Homo sapiens: one gene and its partner. The protein of the gene in region 1 purifies or fractionates together with the protein of each later gene. This does not show direct contact. Each region holds a gene or a part of one and is shown on either strand. Other genes may lie near its edges.

What was found. Proteins that work in one complex are often made in the same cells at the same time.
Region 2: the proteins of FOXN2 (region 1) and RPS6KA3 purify together in Homo sapiens (affinity purification with western blotting; one study listed by BioGRID). This does not show direct contact.

What each region holds. Positions count from the first base shown.
Region 1 is NC_000002.12:48,376,739-48,379,795, forward strand, and holds the end of FOXN2 (forkhead box protein N2), read left to right. Parts: 3' UTR 1-2,557; downstream 2,558-3,057. UniProt on the Homo sapiens protein: Binds to the purine-rich region in HTLV-I LTR.
Region 2 is NC_000023.11:20,165,910-20,169,409, forward strand, and holds part of RPS6KA3 (ribosomal protein S6 kinase alpha-3), read right to left. Parts: coding exon 3,493-3,500; intron 1,839-3,492; coding exon 1,680-1,838; intron 1-1,679. UniProt on the Homo sapiens protein: Serine/threonine-protein kinase that acts downstream of ERK (MAPK1/ERK2 and MAPK3/ERK1) signaling and mediates mitogenic and stress-induced activation of the transcription factors CREB1, ETV1/ER81 and NR4A1/NUR77, regulates translation through RPS6 and EIF4B phosphorylation, and mediates cellular proliferation, survival, and differentiation by modulating mTOR signaling and repressing pro-apoptotic function of BAD and DAPK1.

The sequences.
Region 1 (3,057 bases):
AGAAACAATAGGATGCTAAACTAATTCATTGTATCTTTTTTTTACAATGGTGGAAGCAACTTTCTGAAAGTTCAGTCTTATGCTACATCCTAAGTCATAGACAATGACCTTGTTTTCATTATTCTGATAGATTGTATACATATGTACACATACATATACACATATGCACAGTCAAGGTCATGATGTTGATTTGCTTTCAGCTGTTTCTGTGATTATAAAGCATTTTTTAAGAGACAAATTTTAACTTTTAATTTTTATTTTGGCAAAACTGTCAAATGAGAAAAATGATTTTAAAAACTTTTTTTTCAATTGACAAGACTTTAAGTCAGGGATAACAGTATTAATGTTCTCTGTTCTGTTTCCATGTTAAATTTAATTTAACCTGGATAGCCACATTAATGAATTGGTGCTGTCAAAATATAGTAATTTTTAAATTTGTTAATAATGAAAACCCTTAAGCATGCAGGATGAGGTATTTGGGTTTTTTTTTTAGATCGATCACATCTACAGAAAATGGCTAAACCAAGTTAACTTTTATTATAGACAGTGAATAAAACACCAAAAACCCAAAAATGCTTTAACCACAGTATAAATAATAGATTATACACATCATCTTAATAACTATTTTTAAGTTATTTACCATAGCCTCTGTATAGACCTTAGGAACAGTGTTTCAGTGATCTGGCACCAGTTTATTTTGTTCTGCTGAAATTCTGTATCACAAATGTGCTACCTGGTTTTTGTCCATTAGATAATTACTCTTTATAAGGAAAGGAAAGAGAAGCAGAGTTAGTTCCAGCTCTAATAGGGATCTTCAAAGTTATTTTGTCTTGATGTATGTAACAGTAATTCTTTACATCTTTTGATTTTTCTCTTCCTTTTTATTCACTCTTCCCACGAATTTAAATGTTTAAGTTATATTCATCACTAGCAAGGATGATAAACACTTGTGCACTGAAAGCTAACAGGGAGAGGTTACACAATATTTTACAGTTTCTTAAACATAATTTAATGCATCACCTTCCACTTGCTAACATACCAAGTCAGTTATTTTCAAGGGAAGAACCTTTTAAATTATGGTCCTCCATTTACTACTTCCACTGAGAGTATGCTCTCATTCCTCAGGTGTTTTGAGAAACATGACTAATAACCACACAATTAAGTAGAGTCATTCCAAGTCCTATGGCCTGGAAATTGTATTCCCTATAATATACAAATTTTCCTGTAATAAAGTCAACTTAGAAACTCCAAGGAGGTTACATGTTTTCCAACATATCCTAAAAACTGTGATATAAGCTAACATATAATTTGCCTTACGTCAAAAGAATATGTTTTGTTGCAGCTGATTCCAGTTTATAATAGATCCCTAGTAAAAAGCTTTGATTCAACACAATTGTTCATCTTCACATCCCAAACAGAATCACTGTTTCTTGAATATATATTTTTGAAGTTTTTTTGTGCAATATATTACTAAATCAGTTATTATTTTACTTTTCCAAATTCAGAGAAAGAAAACAGATTACCTGAATTCATGGAAAAGGTGGATCACCTCCCTTTTTCCACCTTCAAGCCTTTCCTGTCCTCATAGCCAGCATGACTTCTTTTAACTTGGATTCCTTTGTATATAGTAAAGTTTAGTATATATATATTTTTTTCTTTTTGCTACTTTCTGAGGCATTATGTAAAGGGCTCATACTAGATGTTCAGTTAAATATACTTTAGCACAAAGTCAAACTAGAGAATGTGTTAAGGAGGGAATGTATATGTCTTGGTAGACCAGGAGGCCTTTGCCAGCAATTTAAGCAACAGATGTGAATACTTCACAAAGCTGTAAAGACCATTGTCTTAAATACTACAACAACTTAACACCCTTTTGTGAAGATCACAGCATTTATCTAAGAAACTGTGAGGCTTTCTGGTTTACATATATCTTACAGGTGTTTTTTTGTATTTTTTTTTTTTTTTAGTTTGAAATGTGTAAGCTTTGATTTAAACCAAGTTTACTTCAGTATGTTAATGATGTAGTAAAAATATTTATTGAAAGGTGAATTCGAGTATTTTAATGTTATACCTGCCATTTTTTTTCTTAAAGCATATTCTTTGCATCTAACTGCCAGTGCCATTGTCAAAACTTATTTTTTAAATCGTTGTACATTTCTTATTAAACTAAGTGCTTAATTTTAAAGTATTATGTTGCCATCATATAGTGTATAAAAATGTATAATTGCCAATTGATTGTAACTATTATTTATTTTTAAATGAAAGTGTAAGAATGCTTTCTGATTCAACAAATTTGTTATCAAACTGTTTCCTTATCCTCTTTTCTGATGTAGCATAAAAATTGTCCCGGTTTGAGTTATAACTGCCAGTAGATGACCAGTCACAAGTGAACCACTTCTCAGTTGCCAATCTTTGCTCATATTAAAAACAACTTACAAATACTTAGTTTTTGTATCTAATCTCTGATTATTAAAATGTTTATAAAGTTTATTTTTACCAAAGAGATGCAATTCATTATGAGAAAGTATTGCATAATAAATTTTGTTTTATAACTTTTTTTGTGCTTTCTCTGATCTTTTGTAGGATAGGGTGGGACAGGAGAAGGATGGTAGGGCAGATGTGATGGCTATACTTCTACACACACTTTCCATTCAAATTGGAGTCAAGGAAATGAAAAATGCAGTTTAATTTCAATTTTTTTAAAAGTATTTTTTATGGTTTTTAGATGTTAATTACTGAAAGCTAAAATGACATTAATTAAATTACTATCTTCCTAAAGTTAAACTTCTTTTCCTATTAATTTACATGTATCTGAAATATTTTGAAATATAACTGGGAAAAATGGAGTAGAATATGAAACGAGCCTGGCCAACATAATGAAACCCCGTCTCTACTAAAAATACGAAAATTAGCCAGGTATAGTGGCGAACGCCTGTAATCCCATCTACCCAGGAGGCTGAGGGATGAGAAATGCTTGAACCCAGGAGGCGGAGGTTGCAGTGACCTGAGATCCCACCACTGCACTCCAGCCTACACAACGGAGTGAGACTGCATCTC
Region 2 (3,500 bases), on another chromosome or scaffold:
GATAATACCGAAGTCTCTCTATATTTTTTCCTAGATATATATACCTATGATATAGTTTAATTTATAAATTAGGCACAGTAAGAGATTAACAATGACTAATAATAAATTAGAACACTTGTAACAATATACTGTAATAAAAGTTATATGAATGTGGTCTCTCAAAATACTGTAATATTTTTGACAATGGTTGACTGTGGTAACTGAAACCACAGAAAGCAAACTTGCAGATTAGTGGGGGACTACTGTACTTTTTTATCATAAGCTTCTCTGACATTCCTTTTTAGACTTAAGTGTGCCTTCTGTCACCAAATTCTGAGTCTGTGTTCCAATCAATCAAATTAGATTTAGTTCCTCACATCCAGGACATCACTTCTCCAGACTATTTTAATAACGAATTACTGATGAGGCATTGGGAAAAGAACACAGAAGACTTTGATGACTGCAAGGTCATAAGTTCCTCAGTGACTACTGAGTTCTACTAATTTCAAGTTACAATACTAGGCAAATCTTGATAAGTTAGAAGTCAGGAAGCTCCAGAATTAACACATTCTACTTGGCTTTCAGGGGCAAAGACAAAACAAAAAGAATGTATTGAAACTGAACTCCTTAAGAAGTAATCTTTTATATATGCATGTATCAAAACATCATGTTGTATACCATGAATATACATAATTTGTCAACTAAAAAATTTTTAAAAAATTGTTTATTTTCCCCTTGCTTTCTGCTCCTCTGCTTCACTCCTCTGCTGTTCTCCTTTCCTCCCTCCCTCCCCTCATTTTCTCCTTTCCTCCCAGACTTCCCTTCTTTTTTTTTTTTTTTTTTTTTTGAGATGGAGTCTCACTCTGTTGCCCAGGCTGGAGTGCAGTGGTGCAATTTCAACTCACTGCAACCTCCGCCTCTCGGGTTCAAGCAATTCTCCTGCCTCAGCCTTCTGAGTAGCTGGGATTACAGGCATGAGCCATGACGCCCGGCTAATTTTTGTACTTTTAACAGAGACAGGGTTTCGCCATGTTGGCCAGGCTGGTCTCAAACTCCTGACCTCAGGTGATCCACCCACCTTGGCCTCCCAAAGTGCTGGGATTACAGGCGTGAGTCACTGCACCCGGCCGCCTTGTTTTAAAAATACGATTTTCTCGAACTCCTGACCTCAAGTGATCTGCCTGCCTCGGCCTCCCAAAATGCTGGGATTACAGGCATAAGCTACCGTGCCCAGCCTAGAAATACAATTTTCTTTTGCTGTTTACTAAAAATCTGCATACAAGAAGAACGAAGAGCATATCCACCAGCCGAAGCATGTGACTCCTTGGCCTCATTGTTTTAAGGATTTCCTTTTATACATGAATACAAACCAGGATTCCTTGGTTCTGCTTCTAACCTGAAGTGGGCCTGGTTTTCATGAGTACAGAGTGACCTAGCAGAAACAATGCTATGTTTTCCAGGTCGGAAGAGATCACTTACTTTTTCTTGGAAGCACAAGAGTTTAACATAAACAAGCTAGGATATCAAAGGTACACTTCAATCTCAATAATAAAAGTTTATATAGAGGAAGGTCAGTAGGATAATTCAGCTAATAGCAGTTATTTTCCATTTCAGGCATAAAGTAATTTCTATCTAATTCTAGCTCAAACATAAAGGAAAAAAGTGTGTGTATGTACATATAGAGTGGTAAAAAGACTTACCCCTTGTGCGTGAAGATATTCAACGGTTTTAGTTATAGTGAACAGGACAGCACTGGCCTCTCGTTCAGAGAAAAATTTTTGTCTAAGAATTTTATCCAGCAATTCACCTCCTTTCATAAGTTCTGTTACTACATACACATACTTTCCATCATCATATACCTATAAATTTCAACATCAAAATGTAAATATTATTTGAAACTATATGTGCCCAAAACGAAGTTTAAAATATAAAGGAAAAATTAAACTCACTTCATATTCAAGACAAATTTTATTTATTTATTTATTTTGAGACAGACTCTGTCGCCCAGGAGTGCACTGGCACAATCTTGGCTCACTGCAATATCCACTTCCTGGGCTCCAGCGATCCTCCCACTTCAGCCTCTCAAGTAGCTGGGACTATAGGCGCATGCCACCACACCTGGCTAATTTTTGCATTTTTTGTAGAGACGAGCTTTTGCTGTGTCTCCATGAGCAGGGATAATCTGAGGAAATTTGAGTTTTGACAACCCCCAGATAAGGCCTTTGGGCCTATTGAGCATCATTAGCAAGAGAAGACTTAACACTACCTGGGGAGTTCACACTGTTTGCCAACACTTTGTTATAATAAAAGTCAAGAGAGACATAGGCAACAGGGTTATCATGACAGTCCAGGGAAAGATACTTTACTTGTCCTGGGGGTGGCAATGGGCAGGGCAGGCTTCCTGGAAGAAGCAGTGCCTTAGCAAAATCTTATATGTGTGGTAGTTAGCCAGGTAAAGAAAATAGATGGTGTTGGCAACTGAGGGAACTATAAATTCAGACATAACAGCATGGAAAATGAGGCATGCGCAAGAAATTTACATACTAGAACACAGAGCATCAGGTGTATGAGAAAGGGTGTGTGAGAAGTCTGAAAACTACAGAGGAAGGCAGGGTCTTAAGCGGCTGGGGACTTTAGACTGTAGGCAGGGAAGTTAAATGGGTAGTTATGAGTGTTAGATCTCTTTTCTAGTAATGTGGAAGATACTTTGGGGTAGTCTGGAGAGTGAGACTAGTCAATATTGAATATGAACTAATAGTAATATTAACACTGAACATTTAGGTAAGTGTTCAAGTAAGTGCAGATATTAAAAGCAATAATATCGTAAGTACTTTTCTTCTTAAAGCAAAAGTAGAAAAAAATAACTGTACAAACATATCTTTATTGATAAATGAAATTATGCCATATACACATATAAATTGTTTTCAAATCTACTTTTTAAACTTACCATGTTGAATTTTGTTTTGTTTTGTTTTTGTTTTTGAGACAGGGTCTTGCTCTGCTGCGCTGGCTGGAGTGCAGTGGTGCGATAACTGCTCACTGAGGTCTTGACCTGCCGGGCTGAAGCAATCCTCCCACCTCAGCCTCCAGAGTAGCTGCGACTATAGGCATGAGCCACCATGTCAGGCTAATTTTTAAATATTCTTTAGAGACAGGGTCTCCCTATGTTGCCCAGGCTGGTCTTGAACTCCTGGGCTCAAGCAATCCTCCTGCCTCAGCCTCCCAAAGTACTGGGATTACAGGTGTGAGCCACTGTGCTCGGCCTGGCTAATTAAAAAAAAATTTTTTTTTGTAGAGATGGAGATCTCACTGTGTTGACCTGGCTGGTCTTGAACTCCTGGCCTCAAGTGATCCTCCTGCCTTGGCCTCCCAAACTGCTGGGATTACAGGCGTGGGCCACTGTGCCCAGCCTATGATGAGTTCTTTGTCTACCACATGATTTTTGAAAATACACTACTTTCAATGTGAGTTAGACAACTGATTCAAATGATCCATATTAAAGAATCTACTTACATCCTTTA